2 separate regions of the Homo sapiens genome follow, and region 2 is linked to region 1. Evidence: fine-mapped QTL for protein levels in blood plasma. Region 1 holds a variant in brackets. A gene starts in the other region. All regions are shown on their forward strands.

Region 1 (16,377 bases):
TGAAATGTCCCTGTAGCATGTAAGCTGCTTGGGTAAAGATGGTATCCTTGTGGCGTGGCTGTTTAATAAGGGGTGTGTGTGTGTGTGTGCATGTGCATGTGTGTTTAATGGATTGTTGAAAGGAATTCAAAGTCAGCCGTACATTGTTTTGTGGGATATAATAAGGGTTTGTGAGAAAGTCTTTCTTTAAAATAGAAACCTTGACATTTTAAACCTAGGAATTCCTAAGTAAGCCTCAGATATTGGCCCATAACATCCAACTCTACAAGCTACAATGTCTGTAGAGCACCTCCTGGCCTGAGAAGAGCGTTAAGATTCTGGCTCAAGAGGACTGCAAGAATTTAGATTTCTTGTTAGTGAGAGCTGGCTAAAGGGAGAAAAACAAGCAAACAGGGTTGAGAAAATCTTTCTCATTTGTGCTTTACTATAAAATCCTTTGGAAATTTTATGCACTGTTAATATTAGTATCTATAGCCTTTAAATTATTAAAACAAGCAATTCTTATGACATAGTTTTGTTTTTACAGGAGATTTAGGGAGATTTTTGCTGTCATTCAATGCCCCAGATGTATCAGAAGGCAGGTCCTGAACCACGTGGGGCAGACCAACGTAGTCTACTTTAAATAAATATTTTGAGGCTAGGCGTGGTGGCTTATGCCTGTAATCTCAGCACTTTGGTAGGCAGAGCCAGGCGGATCACTTGAGGTGAGGAGTTTGAGACCAGCCTGGCCAACATGATGAAATCCCATCTCTACTAAAAATACAAAAAAAAAATTAGCCAGGCATGATGGCACACGCCTGTAATCCCAGCTATTCAGGAGGCTGAGGTGGCAGAATTGCTTGAACCGGGGTGGCGAAGGTTGCAGTGAGCCAAGATTGCACCACTGCACTCCGGCCTGGGTGACAGAGTGAGAACTTGTCTCAAAATAAATAAAATAAATAAATAAATATTTTAAAATATCTGTTGAAGATTTGTTTAGGAGAGAGAAGAACAATGTATATGAAAGGACAGAGAAGAGTGCTGCTGCATTGCTGGTGGAAGCAGGAAGGCTCCTTTTGGCTGCCCTGAACAGTTCACATCTGGCCCAGCCTTGCATAGCTCACTCAGTGAAAGGACTCCTGAAGTCCATCAGAATCTCCCTTAATATCTGAGCAGCTGCCTTTGTTAGAGGAAACTGTTGTGGGAGATCGGTATATGTCAACCAAAATATGAAGAGTTGAAGGCAATTAAGAAGCAGATGCAGGAAAGCTCTCTGCCCTCCCTCTATTTGCTTAAAAGCAGGGCAGATATTTACAAAAACAAAACGTATCCAGCCCTGCTCCCTACTCTACCAGGGAGAACAAAGGTTGGCCACTGAAGACAGCTTTAGACCCTCATCAGCCTGGAAATAATAGCAGAGGAATCTACATTAACAAATGGGACTAACTAGCCTTCACCTTTCATTTATTTCCCTTCCCTCCATGTGGCTGCCTGTAGAGACTCAAATTCTTTTTTTTTTCCTTTATCTTGTCACTTCTCTAAAAATGTTCTCTTATTTGCTGATGTTATATAAGCTGGAATTCAAACCACCTCTTTGAGAACTACTCCTTCTCTGGGTGTCTGCCACTTACATATGATATCTACGTGTTAATACACTTGTTTGTTTTTCTCTTGTTAATCTGTCTTTGTAGCAGGGGTCCACTCCAACTAAGAACTTATGGGGGTTATTATTTTCCTCCACAGTTCCCCTTTAGGAGCCTGACTCCTACAGGTGAACCCAGGGTCCAAAAATGTATTTCTTTCTGCATAGAGAAGTAAATATATTCTCCCCATTCCCGTCTTCTTAAATTTCCAGTGCCTCTGGCACCAGCCACTCTGGTCCTTTCAATTTGGCTTTGTAAAAGGTAGCACTGTAGTCACCAGTCTTTCCATAAACAATAACTTCCCTCTCATCACCAAAAAGGATTTATAGACTATTTTAGATCCAATTGTCAAAAATTATCAATTGTCTTATTAAAGCATTTTTGTGTGTTTTTTGTTTTGTTTTGTTTTGTTTTTTTGAGATGGAGTCTTGCTCTGTCGCCCAGGCTGGAGTGCAGCGGTGTGATCTCGGCTCACTGCAACCTCTGCCTCACTGGTTCAAGCGATTCTCGTGCTTCAGCGTCTGGAGTAGCTGGGATTACAGGTACCTGCCACAGCATGCCTGGCTAATTTTTGTTATTTTTAGTAGAGATGGGGTTTCACCATGTTGGCCAGCTGGTCTCGAACTCCTGACCTCAAGTGATCCACCCACCTTGGCCTTCCAAAGTGCTGGGATTACAGGCATGAGCCACCATGCAATGCCAGGCCCTGTGTGTGTGTGTGTGTGTGTGTGTGTGTGTGTGTGTGTGTGTGTCTTTTAAACCAGGATCAATGCTTAAGAAATATCTACATTTGTTTCTTTTCAAAGATCCATGACAGCATATGTCTCATGGTTAAAAACTGTGAACTGGGCAGTAGCGGGACATGCTCCTTTTCTCCTCAGGTTAGCCAAAAAGTACCAAGAATCTCCTTTGTGCTGAGCATTATGCTAGGAGCTGACCTCATACATAATCTCTTTTAACCCTCGCTATTTTCTACGCAGTGACCGTCATCCCAGTTTACGGACTCATAAATGTTAAGTGACATCTGGACTGTGTGTGTGTGTGTTTGGGATCTGAATGTAAAACCACAGGGCTTTTTTTTCTTCACTCTGCTGTCACAGACAATGTGACTGATAGTTCCTTCTACCTGAGCTGTCCTCCTACTTCTCACCTGGCCAGATTCCCACCATCATTCAAATCTCTGTCTTAGACCCACCTCTCCATGAATCCATCAGTGATCTATTTCTTCTGTGAACTCCTATTGTTCTTTATGTTTTAATCACACAATCTAAGACTTGATTATCTCTTATCTTGGACCACCCACTAATTGTTTCCCGAGTCTTATCTCATCTTTCTAGAGGCGTGTGAGCTGCTTTAGCACGGGGGGAGTGTGTTCTCTGTGCTTCTCTTGTGTTCCCAAAGGTGCTGAGTGCATAATGGGGGCAGAGAAGAGCACCATAGAGGCCTCTTGAATACATGACTGATGAATTCACCTGTGTCCTCTGTCAATTGTGAGCATCCACAGCCCAGCTTTTGTCATGTGGCACTTAAGGGCCCTTCAAATTCTCACCCCAATTTCTTGCCAGAACCACATAGAATTAGGTGAGTGGAGGGGGTTAGGATGGAGACAAAGGGGCCGTTTATCATTGTTGGTTTTTTCAGGTGTAGTGCCTTTACATGTAATCCCATGGCAGTGAAGTATGACAGAGTGAAAAGATGAGTGAATTTGATGTTTGGAGATAAGGGGTCTAGTCCTGTCTCTTGAATAATCATTTCATACCTTTGATAAGGCTCTTAAACTTCCTATAACTCTACTTATTTATTCATAAAATTGAAATATTAATAGCCACATCACCTATCTTGCAGAGTTGTTGAGAGTTCAAGTAAAACAATAGATGCGCAAACATATCATAAAGAATAAAATGTAATCGGAATTGAATAGAGCCCTGTTCTCAAAATCAGTAAGACCAGTTAGTTACACAGTTTGACCCAGTGAACATCTCACAGCTTTCCTGAGCTGCCTTCCCACTCTGGCTCCTTCATACCCCCCTAAACCAGCAATCATTTCCAGGGATTTTGGTGCCACCTTCTGAACCAGAAATCATCTTCGGGAAAACTTGAGGGGTCAGTGGGGTCAATTCATGCCCTGGTCTCTATGGTAACCCAGATATTCAAATTAATTCTACCTTGATCTGACATTTGTAATGATTTTTTTTTCTCTTGTTGAGCTCTGGTTTTACATTCTAGAGAATGAGTTTGTCTCTTCAAACCTTTCTCTCTTCTAAAGCAGAAGAGAAAGGAGGAAGGCAGGAAGGCAGTACCCTTGAATCACAGTTGCAATGGATCACTTTCTCCTTGCTGCAGGCAAAATAAAAATGTCTTCCAGGTAGAAATGAATTAGGGTGTCAGGGCCAAATCCATCTTCTTCTTCCTCTTCACTGAGCACTTCTGTACTTTCCTCTCTGCCTGGTGGAGCTGATTCATCTGCAGTGAGCCTCATGGTGAAAATGAGGGGAGTCCAAGAAGACAGTGGCCTCTCCAATTCTTCTCCCTCATTTAAAAAAAATCCAAATCATTAAAGACCAGCTCCATCTTTTCATTGTGTCTCTTAACCTATACTCTTCAGAGCCTAGAGTGTCTAACATTTGGTAAGGACTCAATATATTATCAAACAAAATTTAAAACAAACTTTAAAAAAATAAAGACTTACATTATATGGAAAAGACATTTGCACATGCATGTGTGTAGCAGCGCAATTTGAAATTGCAAAAATATGGAACAAATCTACGTGCCCATCAACCAACGAGTGGATAGGGAAAATGTGGCATATATACACCATGGAATATGACTCAGCCATAAAGAGGAATGAAATAATGGCATTCACAGCAACTTGGATGGAGCTGGAGGCCATTATTCTAAGTGAAGTAACTTAGGAATGAAAAACCAAATATTGTATCTTCTCACTTATAAGTGGGAGCTAAGCAATGAGGATGCAAAGGCATAAGAATGATATAATGAACTTTGGGGACCTGGGGGGAAGGGTGGGAGGGGAGGTGAGGGATAAAAGGCTACATATTGGGTGCAGTACACTGCGCAGGTGATGGGTGCACCAAAATCTCAGAAATCACCACAAAAAATCTTTTCCATGCAACCAGAAACCACCTGTTTCCCAAAAATTATTGAAATCAAAAAAATAAAATAAAATAAAACAAAAATAAACAGACTTAAAAGAACATTTCCCAGAAATGGCAGAAAGAATATTCCCCAATGAAAGGGATGGTTCACTAACGAATAGCATTTCCAACAGCAAGGACTATCTAGAGAACATAGATTGTGTGTGCGTGTGTGTGTGTATGTATGTGTCCATGTGTATTTGAGGAGTGTGACTTACTATGCTTTTATTTATTAATATAAGTCACAGACAACTTAACTCAAAGTGGCTTAAAGAAATATAATCAGGAAATTTGTTTTCTCACATAGTAAGCAACCCAGCAGTAGATCAGGCTACCGGTGTGGTATGTCAGGGCTCCAGCTCCGCTTATTATGGCCTTTGCTTTCTTCCCTTTTGTGTGTTGGCTTCACCCTCATGATGGTAACCAAATGACCCCAGCAGTTCCAGCCATCAAATCAGTTACAGCAAAGTTCAGAGGAAGAAGGGAACTATCCCTTTATATCACTTTCTAAGGATCAGGAAAACATTTCCTAAAGCACCCCAGGTAATATCTTCCTACTTCCGACTGGCCAGAGATGGACCTAGGGTCAAGGGTCCATTCTTAATCCTGTGTAGTGCCAGGTATGAAAGTTCTGAGGGTTCCAAGTATAGGGCAAGATGCCACCTCTTAAATTCCCAATTCCAAGCAAAGAGTCCCAATGCTTGGTGACCAGTCTGGATTTCAAACATATCCCCGACTTGGGCAGATGGCAGGCAGACAGTTTGTAGTCTCTTGCCCTACAAATCTTTCAACTAGTTTGAGTTTGATGGTGGAGACAGGAGCATGGGTAGAAAGTTCTTTGCATTCTGAGTCCCACAGAGAGATCTAGAGTATGGGACTCCAGTTCCAGGCACCTTGAAGATTCCATCACAGTGGGAGTTGCAGACAGCCTTTTTTAGTCTACTACTTTTTCAGTGAGTAACCACTAAATAAGACATAAAAACACCCACACATGCTTCTACCAAAGGCAAGCATAAGTCATTAGGCTCATATAGTATAAATTCGTTAGGAAGAGGAGGAACACATTACCAGCTGTTCAGACAATTTGCAAGACTCTCTTTTACCATAGAGCAAGAAAGGTACTGGCTTTCAGAACAATTGACATGTGTCCTGTTTTGCAGAGCAGAGTTAACTCTTTTTCTTCAGTCCCTCTTCTTTCAAATAGTGTAATTTTTGGTCTCCTGGGAACAATAAACTGGCCTATTGCTGATTTATATAAAAGTAATGGTGGCTTCCTTAGCTAATAAAAGAACCCATGGAAGCTTTGCCAAGTAGAAGACTGATGAAATCCCGGGTGGGGAATAGCTGTCACTCCAGCAGGGTTTGGTGAAGTGAGAACGGAGATGGTGGGGGTTCTGGCTGGTTTCCCTCTTCCAGCAAGGGCTGCATGCCTTGAATTGGGACAGATCAATTCTTCTGAGAGCTGGCACCTTCTTGCTCTTTATGTGTGATCCCACTGTGGTCTAAGATTTTTTTGGCAGTGGTCCCAGGTTCTCCATTCTCCTTTTCACTTCCCTTCTCCCCTTTCCATAATGAGTTGATGCCAGAACAAGGGACTGTGATGGAAGAAAAAATGTTAGGAATGCTCAGCAAACTTCCAAGTCTCATGATGGAAATGGTCTTCCTGGTTCAGGTACCTGTTTTCTGCCTGGTGCTCTTTCTAGGTATTAGAGATTAATACTCCGATCTCAAAGATGCAAAGCTTTGGCAGGTTTGCAACTCATAACTCTTGGGGTGTTTGAAATTTCTGTCTGGAGGAAAGGAGCATGAGGGATTTCTGTAGGACATTTGTTGGTACTATCCTAGACTAAGAAGTTTTGCAGAAATTTAGGCCTTCATTTGTTTAGCATCTGCTAGTGCCAGACAGGCAGTGGGGACAAAAAGATGAATGACAGGCCTCCTGACTTCTAGGACCTTTGAGGAGGAGACTGCAAATTTCCATGTAAGGTGAAAAGTGTCATAATATAAACACAGTGGACCCCTCATCCATGGGGTATGCGGTCCAAGACCCTCACTGGTTGCCTGAAACCATGGATAGTACCTAACCCTACATATTCTATGTTTTTTCTCCTATACATACATGCATATGATAAAGTTCAATTTATAAATTAGGCACAGTAAGAAATTAACAATAATAACTAATAATAAAATACAACAGTTATGCCAGTATACTGCAATGAAAGTTAAGTAAGTGTGGTCTCTCTCTCTCTCTCAAAATATCTTATTGTGCTGTACTCAACTGTTTTCAGGCCGGGTTAACCGAAACCACAGATAAGGGGGTACAGCTGGATACCCCTTAGGCTTTTGGAACACAAAAGAGAGGCACAGTGTCCATCCCAGAAAGTTCAGAGAGGGCTTCCAGGAGGAGATAACAGCTGAGCCAATTTTCGTGAAGTTTGGGTAGAAGTTAAGCAGGTGAAGGACTGGAGAGTGAAGGAGTGGAGAGTAGAACTTAATTGGGATGGGTGAGAAGCAAAATGAAAGACAATGAAGCCACTGGGCAATTGAAGAGAGGAAAGGAACCCCAGTAAAGATAGAGCAGAAAAGGGGGTATGGAGCTAGGGATACTGGGCTGAGGACCAACAGCAAATTCACAGTGTCTTTCAAGATCCTCCCTGTCACACCAGGGAGCAGTTCTCCATGCTCCTTAACAGTCAAAAGTGAAGTCAACAGAAACATTATCCTTCAGAATGGCTTTCTTTGAACATCAGTAGTATAACTTGCCCTCATTTGTTTGGCAAAGGGCAGAGGGGTATGCTCCTGTGGAAACTGAGAGTAAGGTCTGAAAGGGGCAGGTCACACCATGGAGCTGTCACACCTGAGGCCTTTGGGAATCAGCCCCTCCATGGCCTGTTTCTTTTCCTACACTACACAGTGAGACGCTCTCCCTAGGAGCTCAGCTCAGTGGATGCCTACTTCTGCTTTTGGTAGTAACTACTAGGCTTCATTTACATTCAGTTCTTTTTTCCTTTCCAATACATGGATAGATTACACATCTACTCCACCCTGCAACTGGATGGGGTCACAATGCTGGTTTTAGAGCATGTGTTGTAGGCTTGGTGACGTGTGTCACATCTGGGCCAGAGCATTTAATTCCTAGTGCAAAAACCTCTAGTGGTCTCTTCCCTTTGCTACCAAAATGAGTAGCTTTCCATATGGCATAGCTCCCAACATCTTGGGTCCTGGAGTGAGCACGAAGTAAGGCAGAGTCTCTCCCTGATCCCAATGGACATGGAATGTGAGCAAGAAATCCCTTCTTGGTTTTTTGAATTTGGAGTTGCTTGTTGGC[G/A]CAGCCTAATTGAGCCTACCCTGAAAGATACAGAGGGCTACCTTTTCCCTTGGACTTAAGACATTGCTTTCCTTTATGGCTGTTTAGTAATAAGAAGCACAACTGGCCTGGGCTTGACCAGTGTCTTTGAGGGGCCCCCAGTGGTGAAAAGAATAGGTTTGGCAATTCTCATAAACCAGCGTCTGGGCAGAAGTCAAAGGAGAGCAGAGGGAGCTATATGCTTAGCCTATGGAGAAGCATATTGATAAGGACTTTATGCCGCTTTTGTGTACAGAACGCAAACTGGAAGATTTCTCTGCGGTAAAACCCCATTGAACACTTCTGCACTCACAGCTGTGTGACCCTCATCTGAACCACCCCCATCCCATGCTTACTTGGCTTACATGTAATGCTTTGGGGCTGAATTTCCAGCACATGTCTATTTTTCTAGAATCAAAAATTCCCTTTAAATTTTCTGCTCTAGCCAATATACTGAGGATCTGGGATGAAAATGTTCCATTCTTTTAACATTAGCCCTTTTGGGCCTGATGGAGCCTAATCAAGGCTTGTTTTTCCATATTTACTTGGCTGCACAAAACATGAGATTGATAACCATTTTGGGTTCCTAGATGACTTGACAACTGCTTTGGATCAGCTGCACAACCAGCACAAATAACTGCAGGAATTGGTCATTAAGATGACTGAGAAACATGTTTCAACTCGACAAGTCCATTTCACGTCAGCAAGTTGATGTGGCCAAGCCCTAGTCTGCTCTTCTTACCCAACTTTCACCTTGAGGAGGCTCTCAGCCCTCCTCCATAGCATCCAGCAGGATAATTTTCTAAAACACAGTTACAGACCTGTCACTCACTTGTCCCAAAGCCTCATGTCATTTCTGAATGCCAACAAATTAAGTGCAAAACATCTACTGGCATCAACTTCTTTATATGAGCTTTTTTCCTGAACTCTCTGTCCCCTGGCTTCTATGTGCTGTGCCCCAGTCTCACCAAAATACCACCTGCTGCCTCATTAATCGTGCATGCCCTTCCACACCTGTAATTGTGCATTCTGATCCAGGCAGCCTTTCCCCTCTCTATCTGGTTATCTGCTCCTCATCCACGAGGTACACTCAAACATCCTCTTTAACATTCCCTCCCCTTCCTTCCCCTTCTTTTTTTGTCTTGTGTGTTTTTTTTTTTTTTTTTTTTTTTGAGACAGGGTATCACTCTGTCATTCAGACTGGAGTATAGTTACTGGATCAGCTCACTATAACCTCAAACTCTGGGCTTAAGCAATCCTCCCACTTCAGCTTCTCAAGTAGCTGGGATGAACACACCACTGTGCCCAGTTAATTTATTTTACTTTTCATTTTTTGTAGAGATGGGTTTGTAGCCCCAGTAACTAGGGGCTATCCAAGAAATATTTAATAAGAGAAGGAGGGAGGGAGAGAGTCATCATTTTCAGTGGGGGCTATACTAGTCGTGAGGGGAGGGGGAATGAGGAGAGGGATGAGCTGTGGGTGACACTCCCAGCCCCCTAAGCATACTCCAGTGTTCCATCAGACTTCAGTTGTAAAACACAAATTAAAATATAAAATTACGAAAAACCTCCAGTGCCAAATGTGGGGGGCCTTCTGCATGCAGGGCCCTGTGTGACTGCACAGGTCTCAGGCTTGTGCTGTCCTCCAACAAGTGGCAGAGTTGGGCGCTCCCAGGCAAGTGGGCTTGGCAGAGGAGGTGGTGTTGGCTTAGCCCCTGATGTTGTCTAAAGGCAAGATCAAAACACGTATTTCAACATGTAAAACCCCAGTTCAGCTTCTTGCCTCAAGTCTACCTATTCCATCTCCTCTGCCTTCCCTTTAGAGAAACAGCAATGGTCTTTCTTTGTGGTACTGGTTTTTGCTGACCATCACCTATGGGAGGAGGGGTTTGACAGTGATGTTCTGCAGACTGAAGTGGTTATGGTAAGTGAAAATCAACACAAATAAATCCCGCTTTCTTCACTGGGGTCACATGCTGGCTTTGGGGAGACGTTTGCATCCATCTATATTTTTTACTGAGGCTTACAAAGTCACATTATTCACATGTCACTCTTAGACATGCATTTTATTAGACATAGACCCTCTAAAAACTATCACTCTTCAGCCAGCTTTAACACCTCTGCTGCTGCACAATTGCTGCTAACTTCACCTTCAGGCAGTGTCTTGTTTAGACAGGTCCATTTTTTTTTTTTTTTTACTGGGTTTATTCCTAAAAATGCCTCCTGAAAATGAATTGCTATAGAAGTGGGTTTCATTTCTTCAGATATATATATATTATTATATATAATATAAAAGCACGAATAAATTGCATCTTGCATAATACTCCATGGCTGACTGTAAGTGTTCCTCATGCATTTCAAATTGTATGAACATTGCCTAAGAGTCCATTTCTGATGCATTACATACTTTATCTAAAATTATAGTGCTGGCTGTAGGAAATATTAATTAAACTCTTAATTAGCTCATGGAATTTTTGTTAATTAATAGAACGAATTGGATGATGTAAATCTCCTTTAAAAATTATTCAGTCAAAAAGCATCAAGTTCCTTAAAAAGTCCAAGTCCTTTCACAGAGAAATTCTATCCTAGAGAAATCAGCATTGGTGATAAACCTCTATGTAAAAAGATGTATACCGAAGTGTTATTTGCAATTGCCAAGCACAGAAAACAACTTAGGTGTGGCACATAGGAATGGTTATGTAAGTGATGGCATTAGAAAGACAGTCTAGTCTAATGGTTAAGGGTGGGCTCTGAAGTCAGCTAGGTCTGAGTTTGAAAGCCAGCTCTTTCACTTACTAATTTTCTGACCTGGGGGATAAGTTAGTATTCTCATCCATATATTATTAATTACCTATTGCGAAATAAAATACTACCCCACAACTCGGAGGCCTTAAACAACAATCGTTCATTGTCATCGCTCACACAGGTGCATGTATGCTGGACTTGGCTGGGCAGCTTTGCTTCTCACTGCTCCACATCGATTGTCCTCTTCTCTTAACCTAGTGGGATAGACAGAGCATGTTCTTGACATGGTGATAGGAGAGCCACAAGAGTGAAAAGTGAAAACACATAAGACAATGTCACATTGTAATTTCCACCTCATTCTATTGATGAAAGCAAGTCACACTGGCCAAACCCAAGTCAAGGAGTGAAAAACAAAATTGCACAGTAAAAGTCATGATCCTATAGCACCTTGGCACCATTGACCTTTTGGGTTCTTCATTGTAATACTGTCCTGTGTATTGTAGGGTGTTTGGCAGCAACCCTGTGTCCCTTTACACACTGGATGTCAGTAGCACTCCAACAGTTGGAACAACCAAAAATATCTCCAAACATTGTCAAATGTGCCCTGGAGAGTGGACAGGAGAATCGGTTCTTGGCTCTACAAAAGGGTGAAGAATTAGGTACAATAATAAAATCTGCCACTGTGGGCTATAATATTATCGACCTTATATTGTGTTTGGAATAATTGAATTCAATTGCTCTTATTTTAATGAATGTTTAATAAATGTTAGTTTTATTATAGCCATATAATGTAGTTATTAAAATTAGATTCTTGAAGGATTTTTAATATCATGGGAAAATGTGTAGGTATGCTTTTAAGTAAAAAAGAAAGGATTTGAAACAATATATACACCAAAAAACAAAGTTTATAAAAATAAGGTACAGATACAATAAGCTATTAAAAGGTGATTTTCTAGTTTGGTCTAATTAGTATAATTCTCATTGTCTTTATGTTTTTCTGTTTTTTCCCCCAAATTTCTCACAATGAGACTGTATTTATTTCTTTAATTAGAAAACAAGTTTCACACAAAAATATACACAGCATAAAATATGTTCAGGATGCTCCAGGCTGGCTCTTTTCTCCCCCTCCACCACTCAAATATTTCCTTAAAGCAAGAAGAACCTTTAAAAAATCATTCTATTACCTTGATTCTTTAGAGAAATATCGTTATAGGTGGCCAATAAGTAAATTTGTTGTTGATGATTTTATTTCTTGCAGTAAATAGCACTTACAAAGTTGAGAATATATTAAATTGGATTTTAAAGAGTTTTACAATATAAAAATATTAAGTATTGGAGATTATGTGAGGATGGAGCAGATTTACATACTGCAGCCAGAATTACAAATTGCTACAATCTTTCTATAAGGCATTTGGCTTCCTTTAAAGTGTTTGTACACAACATTTCCATTTCTAAGTCTCTATCTCTCTCAAGTAAATAATCCAGAGATGTATGTAAAAACTGCTAAATAAAAATGTTCACTAAAGCATTATATACTGCTGCCAAAATTGGGAAACAATGTTCAATGACAGAGGAATATGATGAAATATCCTACAGCCAATAAAAATTTTGTTTGAAAAATCATTTAAGGATATTGGGAAATACTCATCATTCAACAGTGTGGAAGAGTTGCTCCTGCTATCTATTTAGGCATCTTGGATTCAGTAGTAGACTCCCACTCCCACCAAGTTTTAGCAAGGCACAGGTTTCCCTGCCTGCCTTGAAATTGAGATGAGACCAGAAATGACATGAGTATCTTGAGTCACATCCATCAAAGAAAGCAACTGCCTGCCCCCTCCTTCCTCTCCACTCACCCTAGGCCAGACTGCAGATGCGGTACTTGTGAGCAAGCTTGAATAAGGCATCTAGGCTGGTACCCTAGCAGGTGAAGAAGCAACAAGACCACAGAGACCTGAGTTCCTGCATGGCCTCATAAACAGAGATGCTTTCACATCCCCAACTCCTTATCTTGTGAGAGAAAAAAATCAATCTATCTTCCAATACTGTGTTTTGGGGCCTTGTGTAAGAGTAGGTTAGCCTGAATCATGGCTAAACATAAATTGGTACCAGAAATAGTACCCTGCAGGGGAAACAAAAATGCAAACTATATCTTTCTTGTGTAACAATTGTGTTATAGGCAGCAAGGAGACAGATATTGCAGGCTGCAAAGCTGGTGACCTCTCTCAAACCACAGCAAAGCATTTGGTAAAACTGGTCCTATGATAACTTTGAAGGCAGGTTATCTATTTACCAAGCCTGGAGCTCTGGGGGAAACAGTGAAACAAAATTGGAATGTTGGTTTCTGCTGGCTGCTGCTCCTTGCTGCTTTTAGTAGACAGAGATGAATAGAGAGATGAAGTTTGGCAAGAATGTGTCAGTTTGCAAGTAGAGGTGGAAGGAAATACAACTCTGATAAGGATGTCTCCTGTGCTTGGGACTACAGTGTGAATTGACTGTCCAGTAATTTAAGCTTCATGGAGCTGGAAAATTGGACTGCTTCAGCACCATAAGCAGAAAGAGATAATACTGTGTCTATGAGCCTTCCTCCAGGGCCCCTTCATGGAACCATGGGAGCCAATCCAATAGCAAATATAAAATTAAACATATCGTTGTCTCACCCAAGCCTGTTATTTCAGATGGCCTCAAAGTTGCTACTGAGTTAGAAAGAAAATAGTCCAAGGACAGAGCTGAGGAAATAAATGAGAGAAACTTAAGATTTATGCAGACAAGACCTTTGGCTATCCTTCCATGTTCATGGAAATGACTGAAAGCAAACAGTCCAGAAAACTGCTAAGAATTTTGAAAGAATTATGGGATCAAAGAAACCACAAACCTGGCCTGCAAAAGCTGTAATTTTCTGATCCCTAAGGCAACCCCCAGGAAGGAAAGTTGTCCATCCCCAAGGAAGGCATGTTTTCCCACACTCACTTTAGTTGTGGCCACAGAAGTGAATGGACAAGCAGAGTCTCAAAGAGGTCAGTGGACAAAGGAGTTTCTGCCAGAGGGGAGAACTTGTGTCTACTGACCAAGGAATTTTCTGCATTGGCTGAGACTTGTCACAATTTCACTTGTCACAATTTCTTCCCAATAAGATTGCATTATTATTTAGGACCATAATGACTCTGTTTCCCATTCACCTTTTCTCCAAACGGGAGTTTTTATCGCTGCTCTCCTGTTTGACTCCATTATTGAACCATTAAGTATGAGGAAGGTGCCAGGAAACATGCTTATTAGTCTATAAGTCCTCAGATCTCACCACCTTCAGTCCTGCTGGAGAGGACTTCATGTCACCTAGAAATCTTGGACTTTGAGTGGGAGTAGTAACTGGATAGTTACTACTCCGCCTCCCTTGGAGGAGAAGTATGTTCTATGTGGTTAGGAAAGCACACTGAGTGATTGGGTGACTTGAGGCAGAGGCTGACAAATGTCCTCAGTATCTATTTTCCCCTTTTATTTAGAAATAAGCTCTTTCATGCAGGGGTTTTGCAAGATATATGGCTGTGCAATGGGCAACCAACTTTTCCCAGGCTCCTTTATAACTAGGTGTATTTACAACATGTTGTTAAGTTTTGGCAAATGGAAGTGGTCCAAAAAGAAGGGAGAAACTACCAGGGCATTTTCTTAAAAGAGGAAGCTCCTTGCCTCCCATTTTCTTTTCATCTCCTTCTCTCTTTGGTGTGATACCATGTGGTACTGCTGGGTCTGCTTCAACCATAGGGAGTAGCGCAACGCTCCGGGGAGTGTAGAGCAAGACGGTATAGACCTGGGTCTCTGGGCTAATGCAGGAGCAGAGCTGCCCAGGACCTCTTTCTCCCTACATGAGAGAGAAGAAAGCTTATATCTTATTGGAACCACTATATTCTTGTGTGTCTTTGTAATAGACACTTATCCCAAAACTCAATCTACCCTAATAAAGCAATTGTTTAGGTAAGAAAAAGAAACCAAGATGTGCATTATGACCTAAATTTTCTTCAAAAGAAGTACATGTATATAGAAAAAACCTAAAAAGCTAAGTATCAAGACATTTATTTCTGGGTAGTAATATTACCAATCCTTTGTTATTTCTTGGTGATGTTTTTCCATATTCTCCATTTTTTCACTTTGCATAGATATTATTTTTATAATTAGACAGGCAACAGTATATGCTATTATTAAAATACAAATAACCACAGATCCCTCATTTCTGTCTCTCATGAGAGACAGAACTATTAATATTTTTTCCAACTGCCACAGTTTTTTCAAAGCTAGGAGCATTCGACCACATAAATACCCTGAGGAAGCTCTAAGTGCTTTGTCTATCTTTTCGTGCCAGAAGACCTGTTCCAACACTTGGTTGATATCTATCAAAGTGCTTCATGTTTCGTGAAAAAACTAGAAAAATAATTATCAGCTGATGACCATAGCCTGTAGAAGGGCCCTTCTACAGCTGCTACAGACAGCCTGGGCTGACAGAGTGGGCGGTGAATTACAAGGAGGACAAATGTCCTGGTGAGGAACCCGCCTGCATTTGCTGTCTCTCCAGAAGCTTCTGGCAAGCATGCTTCTCATAGTTTGCACATGGTTGTTATGATTGTTTTTAAAAAACATTTTTATGATCTGCTCAAAACCTTCTTTCTCTCTCCCTACATCCAACCATCTAATAGGTAAATTGCTTCCAGATTAAATCATCTCCTTACTGCACTCCTTCTCTCTGTCCTTGTTGCCATGATTCTACTGTTAGCCACTTTCATCTCTCATTGATGACTGCAGCAGCAGCCACCCTCCCTGCCTCTCATCCTTCTTCCTTTTAATAAAATCTCTTCCCTGCAATCAGAGTTGCCCTTTAAAAAGGCATATCTGATTTTGTCACTGTTCACCCTAATGCTTCTCTATCACTTTTATGATGGAGTCTGATGACTCACAGACCCTCCATGATCCAACTAGTGTTTACATCTCCAGTCTCCTCTCCAGACATTGTTCACCAAACTCTCAACCAGCAAGCACCACCCCCTCCACCCCAGAACAAACATCCTATCTGCTACTCAGTGATTTAACTACAATGAATGCTTTCTTCTTTATCAATAGACTTTAATTTTTAGAGTAAGTTTATAGAAAAATTGACCAGAGAACAGAGAGAGTTCCCATATATCTCCTACCCCTCACTCCAACTTTCTTTATTATTAACACCTTGCATTAGTGCGGTACATTTGTTACAATTGATGGGCCAATATTGATACATTATTATTAATTAAAGCCCTTAGTTTACATTAAGCTTCACTGTTTGTGTTGTACGTTTTATGGGTTTTGACAAATGTATCATGACATGTATCCACCATCACAGTAGTGTACAGAATAGATTCACTGCCCTAAAAATCCCCTATTCCCTATCTGTGCATGGCTTCCTCTGTCCTCCCTCCCCACCTGCCTGATAACTATTGATCTTCTACTTACTCTATGGTTTTGACTTTTCCAGAAATGTCATATGGTTGAAATA
Region 2 (16,377 bases), not on the chromosome of region 1:
CAATGTCCCTGATGAACATCAATGTGAAACTCCTCAATAAAATACTGGCAAACTGAATCCAGCAGCACATCAAAAAGCTTATCCACCACGACCAAGTCAGCTTCATCCCTGGGATGCAAGGCTGGTTCAACATATGAAAATCAATAAATGTAATCCATCACATAAACCAAACCAATGACAAAAACCACATGATTATCTCACTAGATGCAGAAAAGGCCTTTGACAAAATTCAATGCCCCTTCATGCTGAAAACAGTCAATAAACTAGATATTGATGGAACATATCTCAAAGTAATAAGAGCTATTTATGACAAACCCATAGCCAATATCATACTCAATGGGCCAAAGATGGAAACATTCCCTTTGAAAATTGGCACAAGAAAAGGATGCCCTCTCTCACCACTTGTATTCAACATAGTATTGGAAGTTCTGGCCAGGGCAATCAGGCAAGAGAAAGAAATAAATGGTATTCAAATAGGAGGAGAGGAAGTCAATTTGTCGTATATTTAGAAAAACCCATTGTCTCAGCCTCAAACCCCCTGAAGCTGATAAGCAACTTCAGTGAAGTCTCACTATACAAAAACAATGTGCAAAAATCACAAGCATTCCTATACACCAATAATAGACAAACAGAGAGCCAAATCATGGGTGAATTCCCATTCACAATTGCTATAAAGAGAATAAAATACCTAGGAATACAACTTACAAGGGATATGAAGGACCTCTTTAAGGGGAACTACAAACCACTGCTCAAGGAAGTAAGAGAAGACACAAACAAATGGAAAACATTCCATGCTTATGGATAGGAAGAATCAATATCATGAAAATGGCCATACTGCCCAAAGTAATTTATAGATTCAATGCTATTGCCATCAAGCTACTATTGACTTTCTTCACACAATTAGAAAAAAGCTACTTTAAATTTCATATGGGACCCAAAAAGAGCCAGTATAGCCAAGACAATCCTAGGCAAAAAGAACAAAGCTGGAGGCATCACACTACCTGACTTCAAACTATACTACAAGGCTACCGTAACCAACACAGCATGGTACTGGTATCAAAACAGATATATAGACCAATGGAACAGAACAGAGGCCTCAGAAATAACACCACACATCTGCAACCATTTGATCTTTGACAAACCTGACAAAAACAAGAAATGGGGAAAAGATTCCCTATTTAATAAATAGTGTTGGGAAAACTGGCTAGCCATATACAGAAAACAGAAACTGGACCCCTTCCTTACATCTTATACAAAAATTAACTCAAGATAATTAAAGACTTAAATGTAAGACCTAAAACCATAAAAACCCTAGAAGAAAACCAAGGCAATACCATTCAGGACATAGGCATGGGCAAAGACTTCATGACTAAAACACCAAAAACAATGGCAACAAAAGCTGAAATTGACAAATGGGATCTAATTAAAATAAAGAGCTTCTGTACAGCAAAAGAAACTATCATCAGAGTGAACATGCAACCTACAGAAAGGGAGAAAATTTTTGCAATCTATCCATCTGACAAAGGTCTAATATCCAGAATCTACAAGGAACTTAAACAAATTTACATGAAAAAAATAACCCCATCAAAAGTGAGCAAAGGATACGAACAGACACTTCTCAAAAGAAGACATTTATGTGGCCAGTAAACTTATGAAAAAAAGCTCATCATCACTCGTCATTAGAGAAATGCAAAACAAAACCACAATGAGATACCATCTCGTGCCAGTTAGAATGGCAATCATTAAAAAGTCAGAAAACAACAGATGCTGGAGAGGAAGTGGAGAAATAGGAATGCTTTTACACTGTTAGTGGGAGTGTAAATTAATTCAACCATTGTGGAGTACAGTGTGGCAATTCCTCAAGGATCCAGAACCAGAAATACCACTCGATCCAGCAATCCCGTTACTGGGTATATACCCAAAGGAGTATAAATCAATCTACTATAAAGACACATGCCCATGTATGTTTATTGCAGCACTGTTTACAATAGCAAAGACTTGGAACCAACCCAAATGCCCATCAATGATAGACTGGATAAAGAAAATATGGCACATATATACCACGGAATACTATCCAGCCATAAAAAAGAATGAGTTCATGTCCCCTTGCAGGGACATGGATGAAGCTGGAAACCTTCATCCATGTAACAAAGTAACACAGGAAGAGAAAACCAAACACTGCATACTCTCACCCAAAAGTGGGAGTTGAACAGTGAGAACACATGGACACAGCAATGGGAACATCACACACTGGGGCCTGTTGGGGGGTGGGGGCCAAAGGCAGGGATAGCATTAGGACAAACAGCTAATGCATGTGGGGCTTAAAATCCAGATGATGGGTTGCTGGGTGCCACAAACCACCATGGCACATGTATACCTATGTAACAAACCTGCACATTCTGCACATGTACCCCAGAACTTAAACTATAATAATAAAAAAGAAAAATAGAAAAACTAACTATTGGGAACTATGGTCAGTACCTAAGTGACGGAATCATTTGTACCCCAAACCTCAGCGTCATGCAATGTACCCATGTAACAAATTTGCACATACATCCCTGAATTGAAAATAAAAGTAGGAAAAAAAAGCTAAGTACGCTTTAATAACTGTCACAATACCATTATCATGCTAAAAATAAAAATAATTCTTTAAAATCATCAGATTTCATGTCAGTGTTTACATTTCCAATTGTTTTGTAATTGTCCTCTCTTTCAGCTTTTTTTTTTTGGAATTAGAAGACAAATAAAATTCACATAAGTGATTGCTGTGTCTCTCAGTTCTATTTTAATCTGTAGGTTTTACTTTCTTTCTTGCTCTCTTACTTGCAACTTATTTGTTGAAGAAACAAAGTTGTTTGTCCTGTAGATTTTCTCCGTCTGGATTTTACTGAATTTGCAGTTCGGTTTGGGTTTGCAAAATGATGATATTCTAATTTTATCATTCCTTCTTCATTTATGTCTATAAAGAAAAACTTCTCATTTGTTACCCAGTGGTATAATTTATAAAGGAAACATAGGATAAATGCTTGATTATTTTTATTTAGGTAAAGTTCAAAAATAATGAATTGGTTCTTTAATATTCTTAATGTTGGGAAATTTGTGTGTGTGTGTGTGTGTGTGTGTGTCTGTGCATTGTTTTGTTTTTGGTATCATTAAGAATGAATAAACTGGCCAGGTACGGTGGTTCACACTTGTAATCTCAACACTTTGGGAGGCTGAGGCAGGAGGACCACTTAAGCCCAGGAGTTCAAGACCAGCCCCCATCTCTACAAAAAATAAAAAATTAGCCAGGTGTGGTGGAGCACACCTGTAGCCCCAGGTACTCAGGAAGCTGAGGTGGGAGAATCACCTGAGCTCAGGAGGTCGAGGCTGCAGTAAGCTGTGATTGTGACACTGCACTCCAGCCTGGGCAATAGACCAAGATCCTGTCTCTAAAAAAGGCATAAACACAGGGATTTAAATATATTTTAAAACTTTTATTGTAAAATAACCTCAGATACAGAAAGCTCCACAAGATGAATCTGTAGCTTAGTGAGTTATTATAAGAAAGATATGCTTGAAATCACCACTCAGGTCGAGAGATAGAGGTCGAGAACTCACTCCGGAGTTCCTCTCTTGCTCTATCTCAATGAAACACCTTCTTCTAAGAAGTAACAACCATCCTGAATTTTATAGAAATCATTTCCTGGACTTTCTTTTTAAAGTATTATTACCCAAGTGTGTGACCTTGACACTATAATTTAGTCTTGCCCATTGAAAAAAGATTGCTGTGTATTTTAAGTCTCAAAATCTTTTAAACTATACTTCGTTTTTTTCTCTTTTTTTTCCTAATAATTTATCTGATGAAGAACCTGGGATGTTTGAATTGTCGAGTTTCCCACAGTCTAAATGTTACTGATTACATATGTAATGCAACTCAAAATCGTCCTGCTATTTGTATTTCCTGAAACTTGATGGCTGGATCCAGAAGTTTGATCACAATGAATTTGATCCCTTTAACAGACTATAGGTGATATTGTGTTCTTTCACCAGGAACCACATAGTCTGGTTGTCTTTCTTTTCATGAGCTAACTAGACATTGATTTGCAATGCCTGGATAAATTCACTGGGAGTTGTAAAATGGTGACTTATGTCATTTTCTATTTATTAATTGAGATGGAATCTCACACCGTCACCCGGGCTGGAGTGCAATGGCGTGTTCTCAGCTCACTGCAACCTCTGCCTCCCGGGTTCAAGCGATTCTCCTGCCTCAGCATCCCAAGTAGCTGGGATTACAGGCGCCTGCCACCATACCCAGCCACTTTTTTGAATTTTCAGTGGAGACGGGGTTTCACTATATTGGCCAGGCTGGTCTCAAACTCCTGACCTCGTGATCCGCCCGCCTCGGCCTTCCAAAGTGCTAGGATTACAGGTGTGAGCCATCATGCCTGGCTGTTTATTAGTTGGAATATGTATTAAGGTTCTCCAGAGAGACATGTACAGAGATATATATCAGGAGCCAACTCCAATAGGCCTCTACTGGCCAAAGATGGAACTATGTAATCTTTAAGATAGACAGTAATTGCAACAGACTGAAACCTATCAAATGATTTTAAATCTGTGAGTTCATAATAATATTACATAACCAACACCAAAACATACTCTAGTAACATAGACATATACAGATATACCCCTGTATATGTCTCTCTGGAGAACCCCGACTCTATATACATAGCTGTATACACAGCTATGCATATACACAGCTATGTATATAGAGTCAGGGGTTCTCCAGAGAGACATATACATAGGATATATATACACACACATAGGATAGGTATACACTATATATATATTGTATATACATAAGATATATATACACATATACATGTATATATCTATATATATTCATATATATTCCATGTGTATATATACATGTATGTATCTGTATATATCCATATATATTCCATGTGTATATTATAGGATATATACACACACACAGATATCCTATATATATAGGATATATTTATATACAGATACCCTATTTATATGTATTTATATATCCTATGTGTATTTATTTATATATTCTATTTATATAGGATATATGTGTGTATATACATCTGTGTATATATCCTATATAAATAAGATAAATAAATATATATAATAGGATATGTAAATATATATGTATAAATATGATATATATATCATATTAATTGATAAGGGACTTATTAGAGAAATTGGCTCATGTGATTATGGAGGCTGAGAAGTCCCACAGCATGCAGCCTGCAAGCTGGAGACCCCGTGATGAGGGTAGTGTGGCTCAGTCCAAGTCTGAAAGCCTCAGAACATGGGAAGCTGATGGTGTAACTCTCAGTCTGAGGCCCAAGGTCTGAGAACCTGGGTGTCAGGAGGAGTAGCCTGGTATAAATCCTGGAGCCTAAAGGCCATAGAAGCTGGAGTTGTGATGTCCAAGGGCAGGAGAAGAAGAATGTCTCAGCTCCAGGAGAGAGAGAGGAAATCATTTTTCTGCTTCCTTTTTTGTTCTATCGGGGTCTCCAGCAGACTGGATATTGCCTGTCCATACTAGGGGCAGATGCTTCTCACCAAGTCCACAGACTCACATGACAAGCTCCTCTAGAAACACCCTCACAGACATGCCCAGAAATAATGCTTTACCAGTTCTCTAGGTATTCTTTAATCCAGTCAAGTTGACACCTAAAATTAATCATCACACAATTCTTTTACAAAGATAAGCTTCCCCTCATGTCTAATTTGGTTTAGTTCATAGAGGTCTGCACAAATACCTCATTCTTTCCACTTACTTATAAGTTTTCAAGGTCATGAAGTGGCTTCCTGTTATCATCCCAAGGTGACCAATTAGTATTCTATTTCATTTTTGTAATATCATTATGAACTCAGAGATTTAAAATTATCTATTTTAAAGACTACATTGCTCCATCTTTGGCCAGTAGAGGCCTATTTGAGTTGGCTCCTGAGTCCTTTGACAGAATCTTAGTAATCTTTGATAGCTTTCCTGGAATCTGGGACGACAATATGTTCCAAACTCATCTTGCATATTTTGGGTCATAGACCTGGTATCAACCAATTTCCCAACAGGCCCCAGATGCTAGATCATAATCCGGGTTCTAGGGGTCCTAGCTATGACTGTGTTTTTAGGTCTCTATAGTGACAGAGCTAAGATATACATGTAGGATATGTGTGTGTGTGCGTGAGTGTGTCTTTATAATAATCCCTGAGTAAATTCTAATCTTTTCCATTTAAATTCAGGATTATAGGATTATGGAGTTCATTACTCTTTTTTTTTGAGACAGGGTCTCACTCTGTCACCCAGGCTGGAGTGCAGTGGTGTGATCATGGCTCACTGCAGCCTTGACTTCCTGGGCTCAAGCAATCCTCCTGTCTCAGCCTCCTGAGTAGCTGGGACTACAGGTGGGAGCCACCACGCCCAGCTAATTTTTTTGTACTGTTTGTAGAGATGAGGTTTCACCATGTTGCCCAAGCTGGTTTGGAACTCCTGGCTCAAGGTATCTGCTGGCCTCGGCCTCCCAAAGGGCTTTTGCTCTTTTGTATCAAATTTGTATCTCCTTTCTTTCACACTGAGAATCCTGATTCTCATGGATGCATTGGTTAAAGAAAGAGAATAATTCAAAATTACTAATATACTTTATTCCACATTATACATACAACATTCTCAGAATAACAATAATATTGCCATCACTAGTATAATTATTGAGAGCAGTTGAAATTATTTTTGCACATATGCTCTCCGTTCTCCCCACCTTTTTAAAAGCTGCACTATATCAATGCTAAGTATTTAGTTATTATATACCGTGCTGTCTCCCGTTTAGCCTCACTTAATTACATTTTTACAAGTAACTATATGTTTTATGTTTATCACCTGTTCTTACGACAATGCCTCTCTAGTTATTTTGGTTGACTGAAACTCTTTATCTAGTAGATTCCCCAGCAATGGTTTGAGAAAATAATATTCCTTGAATTCTTGCCTGTTGATAGCAGTTTGCTTTAGCCTCTCATACCTAAAAGTCAGTTTGCTGACTTATAAAATCCTTACTTCACATTTTCTTATCTTGAATGCATTAGGTATATTACCTTATTTTTCCTGGCATGAAGCATTACTGTCAAAGTCTTAATGATAATCTAATATCCCTTCCCTTATGAATCACTTGTTGCTTTTGCCTAGAAGCCCAAAGGACTTTACCTTCAAAGTTCAGTAATTTTATTAGAATATGTTTTGGTGTTGGTCATTTTGGGCCAATATTCTCAGGTACATGATATGCTCTTTAAATGAGAGTTTTTAATCTTCTTTTTTTAAATTCAGGGAAACTTCCTTCGATGATATGTTTGTTATTCGTTTGTTTTTTAGTACTTCTGCTGTTCTCTCACTTTTGTTATCTTCTTTAGGCCTCCTATAATCTACAATTTGGATGTTCTTTGCCAATCTTTAATATAATTCACTTTTTCCCAAATACTTTTTATTTATTTATTTTTTTAACTTTAAAATATTTCCCTCTTTTTTGCCTTCTACTTCCATTGAATAATTACCTATTATATTTATTCTCTTTTGTGTTCCCTCTAGATTAGTTTTCATTTCTAAAATAATTTTTTCTTTCATGCTAATATTTTCCTGAGTCCTGATATTTATTTTCTGAATTATTCTAGTTTCCATGTATTTTTTTCACCTATTGTGTCATTTTCTTGATACTTCTTTACTATTTTAAAAATAGAAGCTTAGGGTTTTAATTTATTATTTAATTATGTCTTTTAAGCATACTTTGTCTATCAGGTTGTTATTCTGCTCCTATGGGATTTAACCTTCATAGTTTTTTGCTGTTTGTTTTATATGAAAGTGGTTTTCCTGTACTTTTAGAAAGAAATGTGGTTCAGGGTAACTTTCAAACTTCACACGGCTCCCTCTTCTGTTGCTTTCGTGTTATGTTAAAAAAAAATAGCAGCTTTCTAAGATTTCTTGGATCCATTCCCCTCTCCCATATTTATCTGTGTCTTCTCTATTGTCTATATCCTGTGCAATTTTTATTCCACTCCCAGAAGTTTCTCCTGTATGTGAGTCTGTCTTAGAAAGCAGCTGTAGTGGCTTAGAATCCTTAGGGGCTAGACTGGTCTAGATCCTTCAGCTGTGCTATGAACCATTGGCACCCATCAGCAATAATTCTTGACTGCTTTGGGTTCTGCTGTTCTCATGTTCATCAGATTTCCTGCTGCTTTCCTCCGCTCACTCCTGCATAGACTCTCTAGGTCTTGTGGCAGTTGTGGACTTTGTCCTTAGTCACCTTGGAGTTAGTGGATATAACTTGTCATAAGGGGTGGTAACTAATCAAAAACTACCTCAACGTTTCCTCTGCTCCCTATACATGTGCATCCTGATCTGACACCAAAAGGTAGAGAGTATTTCTCCTTATGAATCTGAGATCTCCTTGTGATTGATTGACCAACAGAATATGGAAAAATGATATTCTAGGAACTCTTGGCCCCCAGCCTTCAGGTTGTGAGAAGGCCAAGCCAAGGAGAGGCCATGTAAAGAACTAAAGTGCTCAGAATTACAGCTCCAGCTGAGCTCTCAGGTAACAACTATGAAAGTGGCATCTGAAATGTTCTGCCCCAACTGAGTCTTCAGATGACTACAATGCTAGCTGTGAGAGATAAGAAAATGGTAGTTGTTTTAAAATGCAAAGTATTGAAGTGGTTTTTGATATAGCAATAGATAACAAAAATGCCTAGTTTTATTGTAAATGTTATCCACAGTTTTCAATTTTGTTATCTAATTGCTCCTCTGTTTTTATGTAGGGATTTGAAGAGAGTCTAAAATAATGTCTTGTAATGCAATCTGCCCAAATCTGCCCAGAATCCAATTCTGTCATAAGATTATAAGGTTCTTCTAGCATAGATCTCAGTTAAGACCCATGAAACCATCAGAGAGTGTAATTCAGAACCAGAGCAAATCACAGGGAATTTATAGCTTCCCCATATGGACTTTGGCTTTCTAATCAACCCTAAATGAAAATAGACATCTCTTTCCTCATTGTCTGCACCACCCTCCCCCGCATATTATAGTTCACACTAAATATGTTGATAATCCATATATCTGACATTAGTTGCCTGAATAAATTGGGCACTCTAATTTTCTAGATCCATGTTAGGAGCATCAGCTCAATTTTTTTTTTAACAATTAAAGCATTTTTTTAAAAGTTACAGTGAGTTATGCAGATACTGTAATCAAGTTAATAGTTTGGCTAATTTTCAAGCCAATCCACTCAGTCATTCAAAGAGTACTGAGTGATTATTAAGAACTGTTCTAGGTATCCAGGCACTGATTATAGATCAGTAGACAAGCAAACATCCCTACTCTTAAGGAAATTAAGGTCCAGCAGCTGATATTCTCTAAATTCTTGTTCAGTGGCCATCCTGCCGTCACTTGAACACGCTCCTGGGAAATTGCCAAACCCATTTCCAGCTCCCTACAACTTTTAGTACGCTTCCTCGAAAATGTTTTGGTAAATATCATTTTATCCATTTCATTACATTTTCAGTGGTGGCACAGAGTCCCTTCAAGATTAGTTTCCTTGGATGCTACCCAGCTAGTATTCCCCTTAATCCAATTCTGATTTCAAAGAATCATTAAAATGTGGCAAACAGGGAATGATTAAGTGTTAAGTGTTAGATCTAAATTTCTTGAATAACACAATAGCTACTTAAGGGGGGTACTTTAGTGGACGCTTTATTAGATTAGTAGGAGTTTGGGAACTTTGTGTGTATATGGGGGTGGGGAGATGAGAGGAAAAGGAGGTGAGTAGTAGAGGTTGTTAAAAGAGGAAAAAGGAAGAAATAAAAGCCCATATTCTCAAAACCAACAATTTAAGGAACTCTAGTATTTTAGTAGCTTTCTCCATGTACAACCTGGAAATGTACATTAACAGGAAACTTTCTACCCACCCCTGCCTCCGCCTTTCCCATCCTTGGGTCTGCTGGGATCTGTCGGTGGGTAGAAGACATTGTCATTGTTCATAAGACTGCCTGAATGTGAATGACATATATTTAGAAATCAAAATAAAGTTTTGGGAAGATCTTCAATTTAATGGAAACTAGTCTAGTCATTTGGGAACCACAAGAGCTTTTTAGGGAAAATGTGCCTCTGCCAGCTGGAGGAAGTGTGGGTGTACCGGGGTCCCGGTGACACCTTGTGATGTCAGTCACCCCCAGCCTGAGGTTGATTGGCTATGAAGAGCTGCAGCAGAGTTTAAATTCCTGCACCATCAGAGAAGTGTCCAGAATATCAACACAAGAGTGGCTTCATTGGGCATAGATTTCCTCTTTGAGAACATCAACCTGATTTTTGAGACTTTTTGAAAAAATTCTTTGTGAACTACGGAGGGTAAGTCATTTTCATCATTTAATTTTTTAAAATGACTTTTGCTGGTTGTTTGGAAAATATTAAATATGTATACATGTTTGAGGCATTATACCATGTAGAGAGAGATGGGAGAGCTGCGCTTTGGGTAAAAACAGTTCCTATTTTTGTGCCTGTTGTTTATGCCACAGTAAATAATGATATGAAAATGACATGTTAAGACAATACAGCCAGGTGTTTTTCTTGGTAATGCTTTAATTAGATCTCTGCATGACACTTCTAAAAGGGATAGTTTATAGAACAGGAGGCAGATGGAAGGTCATTTTGAAATTTAGTTTTAATTAGCAAAACGTATAAAACTTTTACAGTGTGTTTCATGAATAAGGGAATGTTTGCAACCTACAAGATTGTGAAAAAAAAGCTAAACTTATTGAATGGCAGGACTTTAAAAAGAATTTTTTTTAAATTAAAATGTTATTCATCTAGAGAGCATCTAGTAACATTTATTATGAACTGCATAAGTAACTAAAAGATGATTAAACTACTGAAATAACTGAGGGTGTGATAATTATGTTTTTTGTATTCATGTTAGCATGATGCCTTGAATACAGTTAGAATTCAATAAATGTTGAATATAATTATATTTTAAAATATTGCATTTTAAAACATATATTTTAAAATGTCCATATGTATTTTTATTTACTGTATTTAGTGCACTTCTTCATCTGTGTGACGTTTAGAAGAGTCCATGTGTTTTAGCAACTTGTCTTCCTTAAGAGCAGTAACTTGTGGTTAACCATACTTTCTGTTTAACTGAGGCTTGACTATCTTATTTTAACTTTGTTGTTTAAAAATGCGAACAAACTATTTTCTAAAGGGTATTAGTCCACTTACCTACCTGAAAATGGTGATGTAAAACAATGTGCCTCAGATGCTTAGAGGCCTTCCAAATCTATATTTAATTTTGGGGGCACCTCAGAGGTATATTCCTGTGATTAAAAGCATATAATATTGGATTCATCGTAATTGACCTGAAGACACATACAATAGGAAGAATTGGATTTTTTTTTGGTTTGTTTGTTTCTCTGGATTCCTGGTAGAGTTCATATCCTGGCCAAGTTTGATTCTATTTTCAAAGAGTAATAAGAAAACAAATTCTAGCAGGTTCTAGTTAGTTGGATTCTGGTTAATTTTATTATTATAAAACCAACTTATTTTATTATTATTGTTTATTATTATTAAAGTTTCCTGCTAATGTACATTTACAGGTTGTACATGGAGAAAGCTACCAAAATATTAGAGTTTCTTAAATTGTTGGTTTTGAGAATATGGGCTAGAAAAGTGCCTAACACATTGCATGTTCATAAATATTTACTGACTGCTAATGAATGAATGTATTGTTCAGTTGTGTTCTTGAAGATAACAATACTAAGACAAATAAAGCAAATTAATATGATGAATTGTTTTCCAAAAGAAAAAAGAGTCTATGACTTTTCAAACCTTTATTTTCTTCTTTTGGCCTATTTCCTTCATTTTGGTTTACATAAAAGAAGATATATATTTTACAAATGTATCTTAACCTTGAGAAAATGCTAGAACAAATTTCCTTACTTAAGAGCCGAAAGAAGTTTTGGCTACACACCTGAAATCTTGACTTTAGTTTCCCTCTCCACATTCTAAACATTTGGCTCTTTTCAACTCTATGAAAACAATTCACAGGGGCAGAAATTCTCTAATACACCGCCTTCCAAATGGATGGAACTCAAGTTGTTTATTTCCTTTTGTTACGTCATCTCACTGTAGAATGACAGCATGTAGAATGTAGAAATAACATTAACCAATCACTGAAGAAGAACTCAAAGTTCTGGACTTTTAATTGCAGGCTTGTAGCTGTGGTTCACATTTATTATTCAGAATATGGCTACTGCCTATCTGCTTCTACTCTTTTTTGAATAGTAGCCAAAATGTTTATAAAAGTTTGGAGCTCTTGTTTGGAAATGCACTTCACAAAATTATAATTATTTTTATCAGAAATACCAAATGCAAACCTAACAAGGGGTTTAAGATCTGATTTTCTTTAATGCTTACAGTTGGACTATATTTTTTGGGTGGCAACATCAGCTCTCTCAGAACTCTAGAGTGTCTTTTATTTTAGTTTACTAGACTTGCATCTGGGAAATTATTGCTTTAGGTCAGGATGCTAACGAGTATTTCTAGAATCCTGAGCAAGTTAGGGCATCTTTCTTGTGTTTTAGAATCTTCCATCCCTAAGAAACTTGAGCACTTGGGGCATGCACTTCTTTGTGAGAAAACACAACGTTCATTGGTTTAGAATAAATGCACAATGGCATCCCCAGTTTTCTAATTATTTAGATTAGAGAAGCTAAAGAAAATACAAGAGAATTCAATAGTCATTGACCTTCTGTCAAGGCTCTAACATTTGCTAGCTTTCAGAGAATCATGAAATTATAACCCTATTCAAATTTCACTTTGAAAATTAAAATGATGAGGTAACTTTCATTTGATCTGTGAAACTGAAAGCATTGAAAGGGTTATTTTGAGAATATCATATTTGAGAAAATTTTGCTTTCCTGAAGAAATAAACCTAACACATTTTTTAAAAAGTTTTGATTGTGGTATCTAAAGAGAAGTAACATCTATTAAATTAAGCTTGATTTTGGTATAGTTAAGCATTTTCATATGTTTTTCTCTGTTGATATTAATTGAAGGATTTTTAAAAGAAATTAAGATAGTATCAAACATAAGGACTGATATACACTATGCGAATTAGAATAAAGAAAGTAGCACAAATTAAGAATAACTATGCTGAGGAGAGATAATGCCCATAATATACATGAGAGGTTGTTTGACCATTTGAGTTGTGTGAAAGCAGAAATGAGAAGCCTGTTCAGGCTCCTTATCTTAGGATTTCTATTATTTTATTGAATACATTAAAAATAAGATTAGATGACTTCTTGAGCCCAATGTTTCAGACAATATTCAGCATATTCAGGCATTATCGAGTGATATATATATATATATATATATATATATATATATATATATATATATACTTTTTTTTTGAGATAGGGTCTTGCTCTGTCACCCAAACAGGTGTGGAGTGGCACGATCATGGCTCAGTGCAGCTTCAACCTCCCTGGCTCAAAGAATTCTCCCCACTCAGCCTCCTGAGTAGCTGGGACTACAGGCACGTGCCACCAAGCCTGGTTAATTATGATATTTTTAATTCTTAGATCAAGTGTTAAAATCTCTTGTGGAACTTTAAAAACAAACCTATTCCTGTGCCCACCCAAGTGAATGGATTTATTGCCCTGGGATGGGATTTGTGCATTGGCATTTTTAAAACTCTTCCCAGTTGATAGTAATATATATTTAGGGTTGAGAATCTTTGGCTTTTAACTCCTATCATTATTTTAGGGGCCAAGGGAAAACTTCCCCCTCACCCTCTGAAGGTTTGCTGAAAATCAACTGACAAAATATAGATTAATAGGAGAAAAGGAATACAAAATTATTTTTATGTGACACAGGAGCCTTCAGAACGAAGACCTAAAGATACAGGAGAAACTGTCCATCTTTATGCTTATGTCCAACAAAACATGGGCAGCCATGTAGAAATATGATTGGACAAAAAGGTTTTGACCTTATACTAGTAGACCAAGTGGGGTGGCCCAGCAAAGCCTGTCCAGATTCTTCTTGGCCTCTCCGTGCAGCATTTCTTCCTTCTTGATATGGGACAGGACCTTCTCTGCAATGCGGGTCTTATGACATACAATTAAACTAGGGGGGTCAGAGAATTTCTTTAAGGCCAGTTGTTACACAGAAAGACAGGGGGACTTAGGGTAATATTTTCAGGTTTTATTGCTGGCTTTGGGGAAAAGAGGTTCTGGTTTCTATAACCTGCCTTTGGGAAAGAGGGATTCTAGTTTCTATGGTTAGTCTCAGGGGAGAATGAGGGGCCAGAGATAGGAGGGCAGGGGAAGGTCAGAGAGAAGCTTTTGCTTCTGAGGCTGCTTCTGAGGCCTTCATTATGGAGTATTGTTTTCTGAGTTCCTATACCAGTAAACTATTGCAAATCAAAGAAAATGACTGAGGTGAGTCTCAATTATTTTTGGAGACTTATCTTGCCAAAATTGAGGATGCACCTGGGAAAAATGAACACAAAACTACCAGAAACATCTATGGTCCATGTTTGTTTACAAAGAGTCCGAGGACTTCAGTATTTAAAGGGGAAAGAACAGGCAATAGGAGAAAGGAAGGACAGATAAAAGAGGCAAGTGGTTGCATTCCTTTGAGTCTTTGTTTAGTGCTCACTGAGCCCACATTTTATATGTGAAAGGAGAGGGTAGAGGAATAGTCAATTATGCATTTGTCTCATGCTCAGTGAATCTGCATTTCTACATAAGATAAAGTAAACATAGACTAGAGGAAGCTGTCAGACATGCATCTGTCTCAGGTGAGAAGAGGAATGACTTTTAGTTCTGTCCTTTGTCCTGAACTTATGAAGGTAAGCTGTTAATTTACATTGTGAGGGTGAAATTCAACCAGACTGTTTTGGGGTAAAGATCTCAGGGCCCACAGGAATTTCCCTGTGAGAAAATTGTGAGGGAGGTATGTAGCCTTTTATCCTTGTAGCTATCTTTTTAAGAACAAAATGGGAGGCAGGTTTGAGTGACCCAGTTCCTAGGTTGACTTTCCCTTTGACTTAGTGAGTTTGGGGTCCCAAGATTTTATTTTCCTTTCACAGTATACATTTAACATTTAAAGAAATGAAACAAATCGACAAACGTGAAATAAACTTGCAGGATTATTTGTGAAATGTATGGAAGTTCATCAGACAAGTATGCTAGGGCAGCTACCAGGGCTTACTAGTGCAGGGTAAATTGCGTTCCTTAAACCATTTCAATAAATTTTTACTTTAGCATCTAGTACTTCTATTTTTAAATACAAAACAAAGTGTTTTCCAAAGCAACAGCTCTTGAAGTGTGAAATGAAGTTACCCTCCAGAAAAATAGTTTGATTTGGCGTGTTTCTCTCAGCATGATTTACAAGTGTATCCCAAACCTGTAATCTTCCCCAAATCCTTCAGTACTGTGAATGACAGCAAAAATAATTTAGCATAATTATGTATAATGTATGACTAAACGTGTCACAGTAGATATTAAGAGCTTTCTGAAGTTGTAATATGAAGCCTACTCTAGCGCATCTCTTGCAGATCACAAAAAAAGCAAAAAAAAATCTATTTTGTGTAGACATTATTATGCAGTCATAAATGTGACTTAGAAGCCATTGTGTGTGTGTGTGTGTATGTGTATGTGTGTGTTTGTGTGTGTGTGAAAACAAATGCCCACCACCTATCACTGGTGTCAATAAGTGTAGTTTTTTAGGGAGAATACATTTGCTAGGGTGCTCTGCCATACCAAGCTGCATAATTATTGTAAAAGGGAATGGATAGAAATTTCTATATTCCTCTTTCTTTACTTTTTCGTCAATTTATCATACTTTATGTGTTAGCGTTTGTACATCTCCTCATTGAAACATTTTCAATTTATTTCTTAGGAGTGAGGTTTTTAAAAACCACTTTGTTGAGTTATAATCTATACACCACATACTTCACTAATTTGAAGTGTATAGCTCAGTGGTTTTCAGTATGTTCACAGAGTTGTGCAACCTTCACTACAATACATGGAACAGTTTCATCACCTCCAAAAGAAATCCTGTACCCATTAGCTGTCACCCCTCAACCTCCCATCTGCACAAGCTCTGGGCAACCACTAGTCTACTTTTTGTCTCTGTAGATTTGCCTATTGTGGACATTTCATGTAAATAGAATCATTCCAATGTGGCCTTTTTATCTGGCTTCTTTCACTTAGCATAGTGTTCTCAAGTTTCCTCTACTCTGCAGCACATGTCAGTACTTCATTCCTCTTTATGGTTGAATAATATTCTGTTTTATAGATACAGTAAATTTTATTTAT

Which allele goes with the higher level. Alleles are on the strand shown, and positions count from the first base shown. The strength of an association depends on the size of the effect and on how common the allele is.
With allele A in place of G in region 1, the plasma level of the protein whose gene starts at base 10,301 in region 2 is lower (weak association).

The links. A credible set is the group of variants that fine-mapping cannot tell apart. PIP is the chance, under the fine-mapping model, that this variant and not a neighbour inherited with it causes the effect. Protein levels are from antibody-based Olink assays in UK Biobank. Linkage for the fine-mapping came from a reference panel and not from the study's own genotypes, which makes the PIPs less certain.
Region 2: it holds the start of DMP1, and the variant in region 1 is the best candidate, but not a certain one, in a credible set for the plasma level of the DMP1 protein (UK Biobank, PIP 0.58).

What each region holds. Positions count from the first base shown.
Region 1 is chr13:42,617,865-42,634,241 of GRCh38, forward strand. No RefSeq gene overlaps it. Among named protein-coding and RNA genes, the nearest start is that of TNFSF11, 52 kb to the left of the region's middle. The variant G/A (reference allele first, on the strand shown) is at 8,103.
Region 2 is chr4:87,639,980-87,656,356 of GRCh38, forward strand. DMP1 (dentin matrix acidic phosphoprotein 1) reads left to right here and starts at 10,301. Exons shown (of 6, transcript NM_004407.4): 1 at 10,301-10,405. The region is part of intron 3 of DMP1-AS1 (DMP1 and DSPP antisense RNA 1); the gene reads right to left.